Linked DNA regions of Homo sapiens: regions 2 and 3 are each reported to be linked to region 1. The links are microRNA targets in miRTarBase. Many come from high-throughput screens and were not tested one by one. Region 1 holds a microRNA gene; each other region holds the end of a gene's coding sequence.
Evidence for each region. Region 1 holds the annotated microRNA hsa-miR-4684-5p (CUCUCUACUGACUUGCAACAUA, at 3,381-3,402, opposite strand). A microRNA usually pairs through its seed, bases 2 to 8, with sites in the 3' UTR of a target mRNA and lowers its output. Matches are read on the target gene's strand: a 7mer-m8 pairs with bases 2 to 8, a 7mer-A1 pairs with bases 2 to 7 and ends in A, and an 8mer does both.

Region 1 (7,000 bases):
GTTCCTGTTGCCTGGAATGGCTGCCTTGCTGCTTCTTCACCTGGCTCTTCCTTAAGAATCATCTTAGAAGTCGCCTCTTCCAGGACGCCTTGTCTAACCTCATTGTATAGTTCAAGAAGCTGAGGCTCAAAGAGCTAAGAGGGCCAAGGTAACACTGTTAAGTGTCAGAGCCAGAGGTCCAACGTAGCATGGTTCTAGTCTAAGACCACGCTGCTTTTCATTCATTCTGCCAACTCTACCTCCCTCAAGAAGAAACCTAGGGAAGACATGCTTTCTGCCTTCAAACATGGCAGATGCCTGCAAGATGGCTCTTACGTTCCTGGATTGTTCTGGAGCGTGGAAAACAGGGATCATGCAGGGAAGTTACAGGGAAAGAGACTCCCCATTTCAAGGTGAGGAGCCATGTTTTAACACCTCCCAGTGCCTAACAGCTATGTAACCTTGAGTAAGTCATTGAACCTCAACTTCCCCATTTGTACAATGGTGCTAACAATACCCTTGCTATTTCTTTACCCCAAATACCTAAGGTTGTAAACTGCCAGCCAGTGAGCCAAATCCAGCCAGCAAACATGGTTTGGTTTGGCCAGAACTGTATTTTAGAATAAAATGAGTAAACATTCAAAAACCAGTTTTCAGACCAGGCATGGTGGCTCACGTCTGTAATCCCAACAATTTGGGAAGCTGAGGCAGGTGGATCACTTGAGGCCAGGAGTTTGAGACCAGCCTGGCCAACATGGCAAGACTCCGTCTCTACCAAAAAGAAAAAAAAAATGCTGGGCATGGTGGTAGGTGCCTGTCTTTACTCAAAATACAAAAATTAGCCAGGCGTGGTGGCACATGATTGTAGTTCCAGCTACTCAGGAGGCTGAGGCCCAAGAATTGCTTGAACCTGGGAGGCAGAGGTTGCAGTGAGCCAAGATAGTGTCACCGCACTCCAGCTTAGGCAACAGAGCGAGACTCAAAACAAAACAAAACAAAAACCAGTTTTCCCATAAGCATCAGAACTTTGCAAATCAGGCTGGGCGCAATGGCTTATGTCTGTAATCCCAGCACTTTGGGAGGCTGAAGAAGGAGGACTGCTTGAGTTCACAAGTTCAAGACCAGCCTGGGCAACATGGTGAAAGACTCTGTCTCTACAAAAAAAAAAAAAATGCTGGATGCGGTGGCAGGTGCCTATGGATCCAGCTACTTGGGAGGCTGAGGTGAGAGAATTGCTTGAGCCCAGGAGGTCAAGGCTAAGTGAGCTGCGATTGCGTCACTGCACTCCAGCCTATGAGACAGAGTGAGACCCTGTCTAAGAAAAAAGAGAGAGGAAAAAAAAGAACTTTGCAAATCAGAAGATGTGGCAAAACCGGACACAGATTCCTGTGTGACAACATGGTCAGGAGTGGGTAGCACCTGCCTTTTTTAGACTGGACATGCGCTCTTACTGGGGGCACTATTATACTTCCAACAGTCAAGTCACCTCACTCATTCACAACGCAGGCCAGCTCACAAGTCTGGAGTCTCTGATCAAGACTCTTGTGATTTATTCCCGGTATTACGTTAGGCCAGATTTCCTGGTCTGCCAGCAAACAGAAGGCCAATTTCTTGCTCAATGGTTTAATGCGTCAACTTTGACTATGTGTTGCCCAGGTCCCCCTCAACTGTCTTTGGAAGCAACGCTCAGAGCTCAGTGGTCCCACCCACTCACTTCACTGTTTGTACACATTTCCATGTGCTCTGGGGCCAGCCTGTGGTCCAAACTTAATTTGACAATAACTGGCCCATGCCTTTAGAATTTTTTCTTTTCCTCTAATGCTTCCCCACTCCTGCGATGACCTCTGGCCAAGGTGGGAGTGACAACCAGTCACCCCCTTACCCGGTCTTTCATAGTAGAATGAAGAACACAGTTACTCCTCGGCACAGCCTTCTGTAGTGCCTGAAATTATGATGCCCAGTTCGCTGATAAGGAAAATGAGGCCTAGAGGGGTGAAGTGACCTGCCCCAGGCCACAGGAGCACCAGGGACCCATCTTTTCAGTTCAATCCCACCAGCCCAAGGCCCCTTTCTCTGGCCTCACACCTCATACTAGGTCTTGAATATCTACAACTCCAGGCTGCCATTTTTCATGAATTTTAGGTTCGTTTATTGCACAAACATCTATCTAATATCTATCATGAGCCAAGCCTTGTGCTGTACATAGTGAAGTGGAAAGTCCCTGCCTTCTCAGAAGAGGCAGATAACACTGAAGACAATTCGGGGGTAAGTGCTGGGGCGGGGGGGGGGGGGAATGAGATTTCTGGCTTCCTGTTGCCTCCCCACCGCCATCCCTGGACTGGACGATAAACTACCTGTGAGAGGCTGTCTCCAAATATGGCTGCCAACAATTCCTCCCCCTACTAAACACGAAGCCACTCCTCCCAGTAAGGGGGCGTCTAGATTCAAGTTTGGACCACAGGTTGGCCCAAGAAACATGGACAACAACAGGGTGCAGGGGCGGGCACTGAACTCTGAGTGTCACCTGATTCAGTGGGTCAGGACATGTTGAGTGGGACGCTGGATAACCCACCATTAAATTTTCCATGCTGAACAGCTGAGCAAGAAATGGGACTTCTCTTCAAGGATAAAACAAAAAAATCAAGCCCAGTATATTTTCCTTTTCCTTGAACCTGATGAGGAAGCCTGGGATGAATCTGAGCTGGTGTTGTGACTGGCTTTGACCACCACAGAAGGCTGCAGGGGTGACACTTTGTGACATTAGAGCCCAGCCCTTAAGAAGCCTTGCAGTTTCCATTTCACCATCTTGGGAGCTAATTGCCATGGATAGAGGCGCAGTCTAGACTAGCAAAGGATGGGAGATAGCGAGGAGCGTAGGGGGACCAGCCTTCCAGCCTTCTCTATGAGGGCCTCAAAGATGTATGTGAAGCCACGATGGAATTTCCAGCCCAACCTAGCTGAGTGCAGCCTCCTGAGTGATCCCAACTGACAACCCGGGGAACAGAATAAGCACCCAGCTGAGCCCAGCCAATCCACTGAATCAGGACAACTAAGAAATCATTATTGTTTTAAGCCAGTAGGTTTTGTGGTGGCTTGCTAAAGATAAGTGATATGCTTTTCAGGAGTGGAGTCCTGTACTTTTTGTAGCTCTCCCTTCCCTTGCCTGAACCCCTGAACCCTGGCAATGGGCACTGAATCCTGGAGCTGGAAGAGGCCTCCAAAATCACTGAGTCTCACCCCTGTCATTTTATAGAAGAGAGAGCTGAGGCTCGGGAAGCCATGCAATTGACTCCAGGTCACACAGGGTAACAGGGGCAGATCCAGGAGGCAAACTCAAGCCCTTACAGGGGTTGAGCACCAAGGGTACGTCTCCACCGACTTGCAACACACCAAGACAAATGTATGTTGCAAGTCAGTAGAGAGGTACCCCTGGTGCTCACACATTCTGTCTTAAGAGGCAGTCACTCCAGCCAACTGTGGCCATGTGGGAATGTGGGCCCTGTGAAACCAGATTGTCTGACTTTTCAGAAACGCCAGAAACAGGACTTTTCTGTAAAATCTCTTGATTTTCAAATGTTGGCTAAGAATTTGAACTGGATAGATGAGCTATTAAGATTGGCCCTGGGCTTCAAGCTTGGTCCCGCTGCTGGCTTTGGGCGAGTCATATTATCTCCCAGACCTCAGTTTCCTCATCTCTAAAGTGGGCCCCGTGGCTCCTGCCCCTTTCAGGATGGCTGTGAAGGCCTGATGAGCTATTGTATTTGGAAGTACAAGCTGCAAATGGCCCTGTGACTGTTTCGTAGTCTCCATTCTCTGTGGAGGCGCCCCTTACAACATAATGAGTTAACACCCGATTTGTCTAAGTTAGAACAACATTATTCTGACCATTATCACAGAGATTGCATTTTTATGGCAGGTTTGTGAGTTGTAGAACCCTCCCATTGCATTATCTCAGGATGTTGATGGAGCTGGAAGCTGGACAGCTGCCTTAGAGACCCTCATCAGAGCCAAGCCTTTCCTCTGAGCAGGGAGGCACATTCTAGAAGTGGAGAAGAGCATGAGCTCTGGAGTCACCAGACTTGGGTTTCAATCGCTGCCTCACCACTCCCTAGGTGTCCTTGGGCCAGTCACTCCTCTCAGAGCTTTGGTTTTCTCATCTGTAAAATGGGCACAATAATACAACGACCTGTGGGGCTCTTGGGGCAACTGCACAAGGCAACACACATAATGCTGTTAGTACAATGTCTGGCACAAGAATTGACAGCTGCTGGGCGCGGTGGCTCACACCTGTAATCCCAGCACTTTGGGAGGCCGAGGCAGGTGGATCGCCTGAGGTCAGAGTTCGAGACCAGCCTGACCAACATAGTGAAACCCCATCTCTACTAAAATATACAAAAAATTAGCCGGGCATGGTGGCAGGCATCTGTAATCCCAGCTACTCAGGGAGGCTGAGGCAGGAAAATCTCTTGAACCCGGGAGGCAGAGGTTGCAGTGAGCCGAGATTGCACCACTGCAGTCCAGCCTGGGCAACAAGAGCAATACTCTGTCTCAAAAAAAAAAAAAAAAAAAAAAAGAATTGACAGCCATTCCCATGATCATGGCAGGGAAGGTGGTGCCTGGCAGGCACTGGGCAAAGAAGGAGGGTACAGCCATGAAGGAGTCTACCCCTTTCCCAGATTAGGGAGGCTGAATTGGAGTGGGGAGGGGGCCTTTGAGAAAACCTGGATGGTACCCTGAGTGGGCAGGCTGGAGGGGCCTCTCAGCTACTTGGCAAGCCAGTCAGACCCTTGCCCTGTAAGGCTCAGAACACAGTGGGTGGGGGAGAGCTGGAGATGAAAAACCTGGTACACTGGCCCCCTGTTCCCCTACTGTGAATTGAGCTTCCCATTGGTAGAAAGCAAGGATAGCAACCGTTCACATTTATTGCAAGCTTAGCACACCTGAGGCACACACTCAGCTTAGTCTTCCTCAGATTAACACATCCATTGCTCACAACCATCTCAAGAGCTAGGAACAATGATTACCCCCATTTGAAAGATGAGGAAACCAAGGCTCAGAGAGGTGAAAACACAAGCCAGAGGACACACAGTACGGAGCAGTCTGACTCCACACACATTTCCTGTAACCCCCAGGCTCTGCTGTTTATAGAACAGGAGAGAAAGTGATCAGGGCTAAGCAAAGCCTCTGTAGGACTTCAGAGAAAGGGACAAGTCATTCTGGCCAGGGGCACGAGGGTGCTGCTGACATTTAATGGTTACGGAAACTAATAAAGAATGGACACAGCTGAGTGCCAGGCAGTTCTGCCAGTCATGGTACACAGCATCTCACTGAATCCTCGCCATGAGCCTCTGACACATGCGCGGTATTCTCCAGTTTCCAGATGAGGAAGCTGAGGCTCAGAGAGTGGATCACTTGGTCAAGGCCACACAGCAGGCAAGGTCCCCTCTTCTGAGGACACTCCCACCCCACAGGGGCTGCAGCAGGGGGGCAGATGGCTCCAGGAAGCTCACCTAGTGAGGGTGTCCTAGGCAAGCCCCCAGATGACACGGGGGTACTGGGGAGACAGGTGTCCCCCTCCTGCACCCTCCGGAAGGCAGCTGCTTTAAAAGGCCCTAAAATGCTTTCAAGGCAGCCTTATCAGAAGGCCTGAGCTGATCCCAATCAGGGAGCCTCCAGGTGCTGCCACAATCAACAACTGCCTGGCCTGCTGCCCCACCCCTGGGAGCTGTGCAAACATTCTTTCCTTCCCTGCCTTCCCCCAGCTAACCCTCTTTTTATGCACGAGCCAGCGGCAGCCAGGGCTGGTGGGCGCTAACTCTGATTGATTTCACTTCATTTCAGTCTTTTCCAGTTTCCTGCTGAGGTTTCTCTTCCTCTTTCCCAGGAGTCCTGTGTTTTATCATAGGCCGCTGGGGGGCAAATTTGCCTGCCTAATGGAAAGACCTGGAGAGTATGTTAAAAATACAGACTCCCCAACCTTGTTCCCCATCTCCCAGATCTCCAGCTAAGTCAGGCATGCAGGTGCCAGGTCAGGAGACGGGTCCTTGGTCGGAGGTGTGGAAGATCCTCCCGTCAGGAGGCCCACCGTGCTCTGCATCTCCGCCACCCTCAGTGGGAGCATGGGTCCCCTGCCTTGCCCAGCCCAGGCATCCTGTCACCAGCAGGCTCCATCTGCCCCTTCCTGTTAGGGGCCTTTCTATGTGCAGAGGTCCAGTCTCCAGTCTAAACTCACAGGTGAGCTCTGGGCAGGCAGAGTTGACCAGAGGCTACCACGGGCTGAATGCCCAGCAAACTGGCCCATAGAATCTGTCCCAGGCAGGGCACAGTGGCTCAGGCCTGTAATCCCAGCACTTTGGGAGGTCAAGGTGGGTGGGTCACTTGAGGTCAGGAGTTCGAGACCAGCCTGGTCAACATGGTGAACCCCCGCCCCGTCTCCACTAAAAATGCAAAAAAATTAGCCGGGTGTAGTGGCACATGCCTGTAGTCCCAGCTACTCCGGAGGCTGAGGTGGGAAGATGGCTTGAACCCGGGAGGCGGAGGTTACAGTGAACCGAGATGGCACCACTGTGCTCCAGCCTGGGTGACAAAGTGAGACTCCATCTCGAAAAAAAAAAAGAACCTGTCCCCACTTTGGCGCTGATGAAGAGCCTTGAGGAAGTAGGGCCTAGGACAATCCCACAGGAGGGAGGGGGCCCATCCAATGTTCTATGACAATTTCAGGGTGAACAAAGATCCCCAGGACTTAGGAGGCTTAGGGACCCCAGATGACAGTCCCTCTGGACTAGGAATCTGAGTATTTTCCCCTGATGGGGCTCTGGAGAAAGAGGCAGGGATGGAGTCTGAGTCTGTCCACACTTGGGGGGTTACCATCCCGAGTCTGGGGGAAGTTGGGAGCTTGTGGGGTGGGTTAGGGGAGACACTGAAGGCTGATCTGGTGCCTGGACAAATTAAATGCCAAAAAGGGGGCCACGTCGCCATCATTGAGGGAAGGACCTTAGAGGGGTTGAGACCAGCATTTAAT
Region 2 (7,111 bases), not on the chromosome of region 1:
CGGTGGAGCCTCATGATCTCTTATCTTTTGAGGCTGAGGCAGGTCACATGCAACAAATTGTGACCCTGCTCCCCACAAGTCATGCAAAGGTTTTGAAGAGCTTTTACCGTGGGGCAGATGAACTTGTGTCAACCATGCACACCCTGTGAGAACCAAGTACCTGTGTTTCTAAGGCGGGCACTCAAGGTGAGGGGTGCATTCTGGCCAAAGAAACAAAAGCTGTGGTTTCAGGACCATGCCGTGTGTAGCTGATCTGTACGGGACGTGTATGTAAGGAAGAGCAATCATGATAGATAAGAACAGTGTGTGAAGCAGCCTTCACACTAGAGTGTTTGGTCATCTCTTATAATGTAAGGGAAGGTACTTTAAAATTCTGGGAAGATGCGATGAACTCATGTCCCAGTCAGAAAATAATCCAATGAAATAAGCATTGGTTGCCAGGCCACAGTTAGGAATTGTATTGTGATACATCTAGAGGCCAAGAGAGCAGGAGAGAGCTACCAACTTACACTGTGGTTTAAGCTAAATGACCGCACAGCATCATAGCATTGCAGTGTTGTTACTAAATCTGGAAGTGACCTGTGAATGTATGGAATACAATAAAGTCTTTTATTCTGGTTCATTTGCTAGTACTTCCTTTTTGATTGGATACTGTAGTTCTTCCTCTGGATTTTATTTTGTTCAGCGTCAAGGCCCTAATTTTGCAAATGTAGTCTAAACCACATTACGTGGACTAGAGGATACTCTGAATTAGCAAGTTTTTTGTTTGCTGAATAAAACTATTCCATCTTAACAATTCTGTGTAATTTTTGAAAAACATCAACATTTTGGTCACTAGTAGTCAAAATCTTATAAGGCCATATGTCCTGAAAGGCAAAACTCTGTGTATGTGCGATTTACCAGGGAGATAGTAGGACAGTTTTTATGAGGGTTTCAAAGGAGTTCATGGCCCAAATGAAGCTTGTGGCCACCTAGGTTTAGTGTACATGAAATTGGAAGATGCTTCTTGATTGTAGTTCCCATGGGGAAGAGGGAGGCTGTGATCATTTGGTTAGATACAGCATTAATTGTCACAACTTGACTTTCAGAAACAAGAATACTGCACAAACTCAAGCATGCATTGGAGCATGTGTTACTATTTAGAAAAGAGTGCAGCCATCAGTAGGTCAAGCTAGGAGGGCAAAAGAGAGTTGAGAGGAATGCTCTGCCCCTTCCCCATCACAGCACTGCCCCTTTCCACCTCCTCACCAGCTCACCTGTACAAGAGAATTGATCTCAACTGAGTGTCAGCTCACCAGGTCAGAAATTGTTATTGGACCCTAAAACCTTGCCTCACAGGTGGGCACCAAGCTCCCCTTCCCTCTGCTTTCCATGTTTCCCACCTGCCCTCTCCCCACCTGTTTTCAGCCTCTTTTATAATGCTTAAGTAACCTGCTTGAAGAGTATAATTTATGGAGATAAAAATACTCAATGCTTACATTTTTTTCATAACTGTGCCAATTGTTTTGTCAAATGCAGTTACCCACTGGGCAGTGGGCTTATCAAGTGCTCAGTGCAATCCTGTGACTTTTAAGTCATTTTGCATTATTAAGACAATCTTATCTTAAAGTTCAGTGGTTTCATTCAAAGCTCCCCTGAACCTCCATAGTGCCTCCAAGATGTGCTGTCCCTGCCAACTCCTGCACCAGCTTGACTGGTGGTGGAAGAGGCCAGGAAGAGCGGGGGGAAGACATGTGCTAACCACTTCTTAGCAATGAGGCTGGTAAGGTTACTGTCCCCTTGTGCCTGGTCACTAGTAACTTTTTTGTAGACATGAAGGTAGATGCCCTGCAGGTCCTATCAGCAAAGGACCCAACTCCTAACAGCATTGGTGCTCCCTCATGAAATTTGACAGTGTCTTGCCAGCCTCCTGCTGGCAGACACTTCTCTGCAGTGAATACCACTATCCCATGCTGCACTAGTCCCTACCAAGTCTTCAACCCTCAATTTGATCTTCCATGAGTGTCTCAAAAAGTTCCCCTCAGAAGTTTCAGCCAAGGGAATAAAATCTAACCTCTCCTCCCTCAACGGAGTGTCAGGGAGGGGAAGAATCTGTTTTCCAAACACCACAATCTCCCAAAAGGGGATTTCACCCTCCCTTGGTCATCTTTATACAGGGCAATTGTGCTGCTGCTGCTGAGGTGGCCACTTTCAGCAAGCCCTGTGTGCAGGGGCCTAGCTGCATTTAGAAACCAAGCATAGCTATCAAAAAGTAATCTCCAAATAGTTGAATTGCATTTCTTGAGTATCTGGAGAGGATGTGCAGACCACAGGAATACCTAATGCCTTTTTTCTCTTCCTGTCTTTGTCCCTCACACTACAGCAGGCCCCTCCCTTCCCTCTTCAACCTCATCCTCCCTCCCCACAGGCCCAGAGAACCAGTTGGGCTTTGTTCTCCTGCAGGCTATGGTTCATCATGCAAATAGCTCCTGTGTCAGAAATGCTTTTTGGCTTCAAATAACAGAAAAGCTAACACCAGCTTTATCAATAATAATATCGGTGGTTTACTTAAGGTGTCCAGAGATGGTGGAGAACAGGATTGGTTTCCTCCTCAATGTCAAGGACTCAAAGACTCTTTCTGTGGTAGGGCCACATCCTAAACCCTGTATCCTGTGATTATTTACCTGACAGGGCAAAAGAGATTTTGCAGATGCAATTAAGGTTAAGGACCTTGACGTGGGAAGATTGTGATTATTTACCTGACAGGGCAAAAGAGATTTTGCAGATGCAATTAAGGTTAAGGACCTTGACGTGGGAAGATTATTCTGGATTATCTAGGTGGGCGCAATTTGATCACATGGGTCCCCAGAAGTGGAGAACCTTTCCCACCTGTAGAAAGCCAGAGAGCTGGCACCTGAGAAGGACAGAACTGTCATTGCAGGATTTGAAGATGAAGGGGCCCATGAGCCAAGGAATGCCAGTGACCTATAGAGGCTAAAAAACAGCAAGGAAATGGACTCTCCCCAGAGCCTCCAGAGGAATGCAGCCCTGTTGATCACATGATCACCAGATGGCTGCCCCAGAGCCAAATGTCGCTTCCTGAGCACCATACTCAAAGGCAGGGGAAGTGGATGGAGGGCAGGAGCTCCATTCTTGTTTGCCACTCTCCTTTTGTCAATTGGGAAAAAATTCCAGAAACTCTGGGAGCCCTCCCCTTACATTTCCTGGGTCATGGGGCCAGCCCTAGCTGCTGGAGGGACTGAGAACAGCTGTTGAGCAGTTTACCTGACGGCATCTGCCATGGCTTGGCAGGAACTCTGGCTTTGGGAGAGAGCAGCAGCAAGGTATTCAAGCACCACCTCCACCCAGCCCCTCCCACATTTCACTCAGGACTGAGTAAAGGAGACACTCAGATGCTACTCAGATGCTGGCTTCAGCTAAGTATTTTGCAAAGCCTCTCGTGTTCTTACAAGTTTGTGGCTATCATGACAAAATGGAGCAGCCTACTATATCTACATATACAACTATGGGGGACCTAGTTTTATCTCATTTACCACAATGTTTTCAATCATTTTTTGGATGACATAATTTTTAGCCTCTTCTCTAAATGCTTCCTCAAGCTTTCCTTGCCTTCCAGCCACTGCAAATGACTTGCAGTTTCCCCTACATGGCACCTGACCCTTGTGCCTCCCTCCCTCTGCCCATGGCCCAGAAAGCCCTTTCCTGTGCCCTCTGGCTTCCTGATAAACTCCTATCATCTTCAAGAGCCAGTTCCCATGCCAGCTCTCCCCAAGTGCTCCACTGAGGCTTCCGTAACACCTCTGTTCCCACATCGGGTTGACTGTCTTTGTTTTGTCATTGCTTGCTCTGGCTGTGTCTCCCTCATTAGACTGGGATGCCTTCAAGGTAGGGACCCTATCTGGGTCAGCTTGGCACCCCAAAGCGTACCACAGCACCTGATTCTGAGGAGGCTCTCAGTAGATATCTGTTGAGTAACCAGAATGTAGGGTGGTCCTGATGGTTTCTGACATTGAATAGAAAACAGCTCCCTATTTGATCTTAAAATAATCACTATAACCTGGACATACTGTACTAGATGCTGTTTTTGTCTGACTTCTACTCTGTCAATCTCTTTGCACCTCCATTTGTTCATCTGTGAAATGAAGAAAATGCTCATGGAGTTCAGTGAAGATTAAATGAATGAATATAGGTAGACTGCCTAATCTGGCACTTGCCACGCAGCTGACTTCAATATAGTAGCTCTAATATTATGGTCCTTGAGGATCTTACTGTCTTATGGCCCAGAACTGCATTTGATTAAAGAAGGCTCCCCTAAAAAAAGAGTCATACATATTCCATTTGTCCTTTCAGAAGGCCGTGAAGCATTTACACTCTTTAAGACAAATTCCCATCCAAAAATAGTTAAGATTTCTAAAATATTTTGATGCTGAAAGAGGTGTGCTTCAGTTGGGTGGCAAATTTGCTTCTATGGAAGATTTTTAATACAGGTTGTTTCTATTTTACTTTTTCTGGCTGAAAGGATTTTACATTTATTCAAAGTCAAAAGGGAAAAGAAATCCAAGAACTACAGAAGAGCAGTTGAAGTGATTTATGCTTGATTTCTAAATGCAACTTATGTTTATACATAATTTAAAACTCAAAGAAAGCATGCTTATACAATCATGTGCAACTTTAAACTTTAAGAACTCTGGATGAATACATGGTGGCAACAGTCCATGACACCTGAAAACATCATTTGTGGAGTGGCGTAGAGTTCAGTGTTCGCAGTCGCATATTACAACCATGTTTCACACAGCCCTGCTCGGTTTGATTTTCTCCACGTGGTTGATAATTGTCTTCAGTTGCTGCTAAGTGATTTTGCAAATTTCATTTATAATCCTCGCCCTACAATTACCTAAGTACTGTTTCTGCAGGTTAACCTGTATGCTACGCTCAGTCATATACCTTTCAAAGTTACTAATGCAACTGCCAAAGAGGGACAGTGTCAATATCATTGTCTTCATTAGAAGGACGGCTGCCCCACACTGTGAGAACACTGCTGTTCCTAACAGTAGTTTACTTTTAGAGGGATGTGAGAATTAGTTTGACCTTAATTCCAGATGTGCATGCCTCAAAAGAAAAATCCCATTCTCCTTCCTTTTGGGGAGCACTTTTGGTGGCACCAAGGCTGGTGTGGGGTAGTGGAGAGAGCACTGAGCTTAGAGTCACAACCAGATGAAACTGCTCTGGTCTTCACTAGCTGTGTGACTTGGGCAAGCAGCTTGCAGTCTCTGAGCCTCTGAGATCCCTGATGGACGAGGAGAACAATGACCCCCTCCCCAGGCTGTGCTGAGAGAGGGAATTGATCTTGGATATGAAAATGCTGCCCTGGCACAGAGGTAGGAGCTGAGCAACACTGCTGGATGAATAAACACATGTAATGCAGGGTGAACAGAACATTTCATCTGCAACAGCTGAAGGCACAGCTTACCTATGCCCATGGAAAGAACTGCGTGGAAAATTCATTTGTTGCATTTTTGCCAGGTTGATGTTTGCAAAGCAGGGCACTCTTCTCCACATTTCCCCAAAACCAATCAGAGGGAGACTCCACATTGTTTCCATCTCCTCCCCTCAAACAATTATCAAAGCCATGTAGAACAAACGGCTGTCTGCCAACTGGTAGAGGCAAAGCAGCCAATAATCTGGACAGGGGTGGCAAACTGCTCCTGCAGTTTAACCCTGCCTGACTCTCCCAAGCACCAGACTGTGAAGCCTGGAGAACAGCCTGGGGGAGCTGAACAAATGCACAACACCTCATGCTGTCAAGCCAGAGGGGAAACTTACTGGGAAGAAGATGTAGGAAGAAGCCTGGTCAGCCCACGCCTAAAGCACACACCTGGGGAAATAAATTAGCTATTTCTATTGCACATCTACCCACAGCCTGGTCCAGATCTAAATCTCTTCCCCTCCCAGCAGTGCAGCGGCGGCAGCCGCAGGCTCCCTCAGCGCCATCTCTTCAGTCAGGCTCCTCTCCAGGTCCTCCAGCTCCTGGCGCACCTCCTCCATGAAGCTGCCAACTTCATACTCATCGGGGACCTCTCTGGGCAGCAGGATCTCCCCATCTTGGTCACGGCTCCCCACGAAGGTCGGCTTGCACACATACACCAGGCTGTGGCTGGGGAGAGATGGGACAAAGCCAGGCTCTAAACGTGGGAGCCTGCCCAGGCCGAAAGCTAAGGCGCCCTGACTCTGTGGGGCTCCCAGCCTCACCTTCATGCCCCCTCCTCTCCTGTCTCTTCAACAGAGACACTTCACTTCCCGTCAACATCTATCTTAAAATGATGGCTGAGGGAGGCTCACTTTGGGAGAATGTGCTGGTGGGGGGCAGCTTCCCCTCCTCCAGCGCAGGCCTGACCTCCTGTGACTCTCAGGCCCCGCAGCCCAGGGGCAGGACCTGAGTGCTATGTAGCAGCACCACAGCCCCTCAAAGACTGTGGCCCATTCGGGCCTCCAGGCAGGAGTCAGCCTGACTCTGGGGTGTAGTCTAGCCACATGCAGGGAGCCATGGACCTCTGTGGGAATAGGGAGGAAGAATTCCTTTTTTTAAAAAAAATTAATGTGTTTGGTAGAGACGGGATCTCCCTATGTTGCCCAGGCTGGTCTTGAACTCTTGGCCTCAAGCAATCCTCCTGCATTGGCCTCCCAAAGCTCTGGGATTACAGGTGTGAGCCACTGCACAGAGCCGTGGGGAATGGGAGTTCTGCCTGTCTGCCCAGCAGCCCTGGATTCTGTTGGGAGAGAAGACTGAGTAGAGGCTGCGGGGAGGACAGGGAGATGTGCCCTGAGAAGCTGGCCAGGCTTGAGCCTCATGCCTCATGGAGTCTCAGCAGCCTCAGACAGTGTGGGCTGCACCCTCCACCTTGGTGGCCACTCCTGGCCTCCCCGTGGCCTCTCTGCCAGCTCCTTTTTCTCTGCTTATCTGTCATTGTGACAGGTCTGGGGAGGGAGCCCAGGCTTTTCTCCCTCCATGTCCTCTCCATGGACCATCCACTCATGAAGCTTCAGCCACCAGCTAGATGAGCCCCAGATCTGTGCCTCCTGGGCAGCCTGGGCTCCAGACCCCTAGAACCGA
Region 3 (7,111 bases), not on the chromosome of region 1:
GCGTTCCAGCCTCATAACCCATCAGTTAATTCACACTGGAAGGAAACCTTACAAATGTAAAGAATGTGACAAGGTCTTTGGGCGCAAGTGTTTCCTGACCTCTCATCAGAGAATTCATACTAGAGAGAGACCTTATGGATGCAGTCAGTGTGGCAAGATCTTTAGTCAGAAATCAGACCTTATACGACATCGAAAAACTCATACTGATGAGAAGCCTTACAAATGTAATAAATGTGGCACAGCGTTTAGAGAGTTTTCAGACCTTACTGCCCATTTTCTAATCCATAGTGGAGAGAAACCTTATGAATGTAAAGAATGTGGCAAAGTCTTCAGGTACAAGTCTTCTCTAACCAGTCATCATAGAATTCATACTGGAGAGAAGCCTTACAAATGTAACAGATGTGGCAAGGTCTTCAGTCGCAGTTCAAACCTGGTATGCCATCAGAAAATTCATACAGGAGAAAAGCCTTACAAATGTAATCAATGTGGCAAGGTCTTTAATCAAGCATCATACCTTACAAGACATCAAATAATTCATACTGGAGAGAGGCCTTACAGATGTAGTAAATGTGGCAAAGCATTTCGAGGGTGTTCAGGCCTTACTGCCCATCTTGCAATCCATACTGAAAAGAAATCTCATGAGTGTAAAGAATGTGGCAAGATCTTCACTCAGAAGTCTTCCCTCACCAATCACCATAGAATTCACATTGGAGAGAAACCTTACAAATGCACCCTGTGCAGTAAGGTCTTCAGTCACAATTCTGACCTTGCACAGCATCAGAGAGTTCATTCATGAGAGTCCCTACAAACTGTATGGCAAAACCATCATCATGAGTTCTAGCATTAATCAACATCAGTGAGTCCATACTAAGTGGAAATCATATAAATGAAATGTATGTGACACAGGCTTTATCAAGGCCTGCCAAATCACTGGACATCACCACATCACTGTGGAGGATGAAAGCACACAGATGAATTGTGTGTACTTGGGCTATTATTCAAGGACCATTGCTATAGAACACGATAGGATTTACACAAGAAGTAACTCTGTCTCTGGTTCTCTGATACTAATCTATGATATTGCATGATGCAGAATAATGCTAAGTCAAAATATGTTGAATCTCATGACCTGATGTATATCAAAGGTGCAACGGCTTGTAAATGACCAGTTTTATTCAGGCTATAAAGCATTCAATTATTTGGGGCTTATAGAAAAGGCTACTTTACTCTTTGTGACTTCGAAATCTTTTCATGTGCCTTCCATACAGGCCATTCACTGTGGTCCCTGGGAAAGAATCAGTAGGATGACAGGGCTGACTTCATTAGCTGAGGATTATTTCTATCCAATTTCCTGATGAAGGACATTGCCTTTTGAGATTAAATATTGTCTGATTTAGAGAGCATGGAGGTGGGCAGAGTAACATAAAACTGATGACCGTCATCATACTGTTGCAGTTAGCACACTTTCTCCTGACATAAGTGCACAGAGCTTCAGTGTCCACCAACTGACCATGAAATAGAGTATGCTGTAATCTTAAGGCATAGGTTATTAGTGGGAAGAGAGTAATAGGTTGCTAGTGTCTGATTATATGGTAGAAATAATGCAAGGAAAAAGGTAGCCACCTTCTCCATTGAACAGCAGTACCTGCTGTTTAGCAAAGACTGATGAGAAGTAGACTTTTTTTTTTTTGGAGATAGAGTCTCACTCTGTTGCCCAGGCTGGAGTGTAGTGGTGTGTTCTTGGCTCACTGCACCCTCCGCCTCCTGGGCTCAAGCAGTCCTTCTGCCTTAGCCTCCTAAGTAGCTGAGACTACAGACGTGCGCCACCACACCCAGTTCATTTTTGTATTTTTAGTAGAGACAGTGTTTACCATGTTGGCCAGGCAGGTCTCCAACTCCTGACCTCAAGTGATATGTTCACCTCAGCCTCCCAAAGTGCTGGGATTACAGGCATGAACCATGGTGCCCAGCCTCATTTTTGAAATGGAATAGAGAACAGTTATATCACAGTTGAGAGTTTAATCAAAATGACCGGATCAGCATATTCTTTTTTTAGATGAGACAGAGTTTCGCCCTTGTCACCCAGGCTGTAGTGCGGTGGCGCGATCTCGGCTCACTGCAACCTCCGCCTCCCGGGTTCAAGCAATTCTCCTGCCTCAGCCTCCCAAGTAGCTGGGATTACAGGCGTGTACCACCATACCCAGCTAATTTTTGTATTTTTAGTAGAGATGGGGTTTCACCACGTTGGCCACACTGGTCTCAAACTCCTGACCTCAGGCGATCCATCTGCCTCAGCCTGAAAGTGCTAGGATTACAGGCGTGAGCCACCACACCTGGCCAGCTCAGCATATTCTTAAGTAGGATTCACATTTAATTCTTGGTATTATAAGTTGCAACCATTTGATTTAGAATGTATGCAGCTCTCATGTTTGTAGTAATAAAGTTTCATTTTTCCTAAGTATGAATGAATCGTGTTTTCTACCGTCATAATTTCATCCCACCTCAGGAGGATGGATACTCTGTAGCACACAGTAATGCACCATTGGGATTTTAAGATTGGAGCATCCAGAGCAAGTTTTCTGGTTGTGAAATGAAACATGTCCTTTGGTTACATATCCTTAGGTAAGTGTGAATATGAGTAATCATACTTAGTACTTGAATTATTGTATCTGTGCTCTGCCCTAGAATGCTTCTGTGGGTACAGTGAAAGTCCCAAAGCAGTGCAACTCCAGCATCCTATACCCTCAAATGTGTTTATAGCCCTTGGCAAATGTTTAGTGTATCATTATATTTCTATGTGCCTTTTTCTTGTGTGCTAAATTAGACCCATGGCACACATTCTCTCTTTTTTTTTTTTTTTTTTTTTTTTTGAGAGTCTTGCTCTGTCACCCAGGCTGGAGTGCAATGGCGCGATCTTGACTCACTGCAACCTCCACCTCCTGGGTTCGAGCAATTCTTCTGCCTCAGCCTCCCGAGTAGCTGAGATTACAGGCATCTGCCACCAGTCCTGGCTAATTTTTTTGTATTTTTAGTAGAGACAGGGTTTCACCATGTTGGCCAGGCTGGTCTCAAACACCCAACCTCAGGCGATCCACCCACCTTGGCCTCCCAAAGTGCTGGGATTATAGGCTTGAGCCACTGTGCCTGGCCCACACTTTCATTTTTATGAAGCAAAAATACAAATATGACAAATATTATGAGATAAAAGTGTGAGGATAAGGTTAAAAATAGTGTAACACAATCTCTTTTTTTGTCCTTGTGCTCAGTGACATAATTTGAAATTACTAATGTTCATAAATTTCCTCGTAAGGGTGGACACACAGAATGGAATTGTGTTTTGCTTTGGTATTTTAACAAGGAACTTCACATATTTACCCCCACAACCTTTGTGGTAATTTGAACTTTTGCCTACTCCACTAGAACCTTACAAAAAAAGTTTTTTTTTTTTTAAATTTGAGACAGGGTCTTTGTTGCACAGGCTGGAGTGCAGTGGCACAGTTAGGGCTCACTGCAGCCTCAACCTCCCCGGCTCAAGTGATCCTCCCACTTTAGCCTCATGAATAGCTGTGACTACAGGCGCACACCACCACACCCAGCTAATTTTGGGGTGTTTTTTGGTCACAGTGTTGCCCAGCTGGTCTCCAACTCTTGGGCTCAAATGACCCACCCACCTCAGCTTCCCAAAGTGCTAGGATTACAGGCATGAGCCATGTACCTGGCCTCCACTAGAACTTGTTTGACGTCCACCTAAGATTTGGCTTGGGTATTGAGACTGATGATGCTATGTACTGAAGGGGTCTGAGAATGTTTATTACATAATAAGACTTTCTGAGGAAAGCAGGTTAGACTTCCCCAGTTGGTCCAAAAATGTCATGAGAAAACTGGGATAGATGACTACTTTGGGTGTTATGATTGTTGAAGCGTCGGGCTGGGGTGTGGGTACTTACTTGTGGTTTGAACTAATACCTGGTGCCAAATGAGGGAGCACTCAGGCTTTATTATCAGTTGACCAGATGGGCATCATAATGTAGTCTCAGCAATGCACCAAGATGTAACAGTCTCTCATTTGAGATAACACTTTGGGTTCTTTGTCCTACCTCCAAGAAAAGGAGTGTGGACATAAAAGTGAGTTTGGAGCGAAAGTTTAATAAGCAAGAGGAGAAAGCTGTCTGCCAGCAGAGAGGGGCTCCTGAACAGGAGTACTCACTATGAGGTCCGTATTGGGGTTTTTATGGACTGGAAAGGGGAAGGAATGTGCTTAGTCTGCGGGCTGTCTTGGAGAATGCATGCCTCAGCTTGGCCCGGGACCTATTAGAAGCTGAAGTGAAAGCTTGGCCCAGGACCAATTAGGGGCTGAAGTGATGATTCATAGAAGCCAGACTTACAGTCCAATAAAGGAACCTGAACTTATTGGAGCACCTGAACTTATTGGAGCCCACTGTGCCCATGTCCACAAAGGGAGAAGAAACTTTTGCCTGGGAGCCCACTGACTCTACAAAGGCAAAAGGCATTTCTGTGCCAGGCCTGCTCCCTTATCTGAGTGAGATGGAGGTCTGTGCAAGTTTTTATCCAAATGGGCCTTTTCCATCTGTGCAGCCGTAGGCATAACACCTTGTGCTAGTTCCCTTATCGGTCCCTGCACCTTGAATTTTTTCCCAGGCTGCTTTTTCTGTTAGGTGGGGATGAGGCACTGACCCATGGGCCAGGGACTCTCCAGAGACCCTTTTCTTGCTATCTACCTAAGGCAAGTTAACTACCTCCTTTCATAGGAAGAAGGAATGCAGAGGTGTAAAAGCTGTTAGTATTCAGACATCACAAAATGTAGTCTAACTCTTTAGTACAAGACTAAATACTTCTTCTTGAAACTCCTGACTTCTTGGTTAGGAAAAACCCCAGTTTTCTTCATGGTGATAGCTGGTTACATTCCTCTCGGATGGACGTGTAGGTTTCACTGCACCTATGATTGTTGAAAATGCTTGTGAATTACTGTTTAGTAAAGTGTCTAGTAAAGGTGAAGGGGTGGGTTGCCCCTCCACACCTGTGGGTGTTTCTTGTTAGGTGGAACGAGAGACTTGGAAAAGAAAAAGACACAGAGACAAAGTATAGAGAAAGAAATAAGGGGGCCCCAGGGGACCAGTGTTCACCATATGGAGGATCCCGCCAGCCTCTGAGTTCCCTTAGTATTTATTGATCATTTTTGGGTGTTTCTCAGAGAGGGGGATGTGGCAGGGTCATAGGATAATAGTGGAGAGAAGGTCAGCAGGTAAACACGTGAACAAAGGTCTCTGCATCATAGACAAGGTAAAGAATCAAGTGCTGTGCTTTAGATATGCATACACATAAACATCTCAATGCCTTACAGAGCAGTATTGCTGCCCGCATGTGCCACCTCCAGCCCTAAGGCGGTTTTCCCCTATCTCAGTAGATGGAATATACAATCGGGATTTATACCGAGACATTCCATTGCCCAGGGACGGGCGGGAGACAGATGCCTTCCTCTTGTCTCAACTGCAAAGAGGCATTCCTTCCTCTTTTACTAATCCTCCTCAGCACAGACCCTTTACGGGTGTCGGGCTGGGGGACGGTCAGGTCTTTCCCTTCCCACGAGGCCATATTTCAGACTATCACATGGGGAGAAACCTTGGACAATACCTGGCTTTCCTAGGCAGAGGTCCCTGCGGCCTTCCGCAGTGTTTGTGTCCCTGGGTACTTGAGATTAGGGAGTGGTGATGACTCTTAAGGAGCATGCTGCCTTCAAGCATCTGTTTAACAAAGCACATCTTGCACAGCCCTTAATCCATTTAACCCTGAGTGGACACAGCACATGTTTCAGAGAGCACGGGATTGGGGGTAAGGTCATAGATTAACAGCATCTCAAGGCAGAAGAATTTTTCTTAGTACAGAACAAAATGGAGTCTCCTGTGTCTACTTCTTTCTACACAGAAACAATCCGATCTCTCTTTCTTTTCCCCACAAAAGTTGCCTGAGATACGTTTTATCCTAGTTCAATGAAAATTATTGTACAAAAGTGTTTATTATAAAATCAACATGATTTGTTTATTGTTTATTGATTATATAATTATATTTATTATACAATAAATATGATTTTGCTAGAAGAGCATTTTGCCAAAAGTTGTGGAAATGTCATTGTCAGATTATGGTATGAAGCAATTTTTTCAGGCTGAGTGGGGGTGGCTCACCTGTAATCTCAGCACTTCGGGAGGCCAAGGTGGGAGAAATCACTTGAGCCCAGAAGTTCAAGACCAGCCTGGGCAACATAGCAAGAGCTTATGTCTACAAAAAAATTTTAAAAATAGCCGGGTGTGGTCATGTACACTTGTGGTCCCAACTACTTAGGGGCACTGCAGCAGGAGGATCGTTTGATGCCAGAAGGCTGAGGCTGCTGTCGTCCTTGATTGTACCACTGCACTCCGGCCTGGATGACAGAGGGAGACACTGTGTCAAAAAAAATTTACTTTGTGCTTCTTTATATGAGTTACATTAAAAATCTTTTATAAATTGCAGTCCAGGTTCCATGTCTAATACGTTTCTTCCATGTGTTACTTGAGTGAAAATTTACGGGCTACATAAATATGGCTGTTGTTTGGAAAGAAAATGTTGTGACATTAGTATGCGCACAAGACAATGGGAAGTACGAACTAGGATTCCTGTAAATACGAGAAAGGAAAAGAATGCTTTTACTATGTTAGAAGACTTAAAATCACATGAAGTGATTCCAGTCTTTCTGTTGTTATTCCGATGTTTTAGCTATTTTAGATTTTGGGGTTTGGCTTTTTTTTGTTTCATTGCCTTTCTACATAATTGGATAACCTTGTTAGTATCTGCAGAATGCCCTGATTAGGAAATGTGTTAACCCTATGTGTCAATTTGGTATAATTTCATATTGTTTTCATATTGTTTTATGTGGAGTCTTCCAATAAATGTATATTGTATATGTGTCTGTATTTGGTGTCTTTGATTTCTTTCATCAACATTTTGTAGTTTTAACATAATGGTTCTATGAATGTTTTGTTTGGCACGTATTTCTTTGACTTTTTTTTAAGACACAGTCTCACTCTGTTGCCCAGGCTGGAGTACAGTGGTGTGATCT

Region 2: miRTarBase lists DKK3 as a target of hsa-miR-4684-5p. The part of its 3' UTR that is shown has no 7-base or 8-base seed match.
Region 3: miRTarBase lists ZNF528 as a target of hsa-miR-4684-5p. Seed matches in the 3' UTR shown: 7mer-m8 at 1,855-1,861, 7mer-A1 at 1,990-1,996 and 7mer-m8 at 2,223-2,229.

What each region holds. Positions count from the first base shown.
Region 1 is chr1:22,715,932-22,722,931 of GRCh38, reverse strand. MIR4684 (microRNA 4684) reads right to left here and starts at 3,415; the gene lies at 3,334-3,415. All of the region lies in intron 1 of EPHB2 (EPH receptor B2), which reads right to left. RefSeq lists an enhancer at 5,079-5,768.
Region 2 is chr11:11,958,533-11,965,643 of GRCh38, forward strand. DKK3 (dickkopf Wnt signaling pathway inhibitor 3) reads right to left here. Exons shown (of 7, transcript NM_001018057.2): 7 at 4,504-6,154. The coding sequence ends at 5,932. It overlaps USP47 (ubiquitin specific peptidase 47), which reads left to right. Exons shown (of 28, transcript NM_001282659.2): 28 at 1-3,355. Among named protein-coding and RNA genes, the nearest start is that of DKK3, 47 kb to the right of the region's middle.
Region 3 is chr19:52,415,944-52,423,054 of GRCh38, forward strand. It overlaps ZNF528 (zinc finger protein 528), which reads left to right. Exons shown (of 7, transcript NM_032423.3): 7 at 1-2,458. The coding sequence ends at 796. Among named protein-coding and RNA genes, the nearest start is that of ZNF534, 9.6 kb to the right of the region's middle. RefSeq lists enhancers at 4,573-5,338, 5,339-6,104.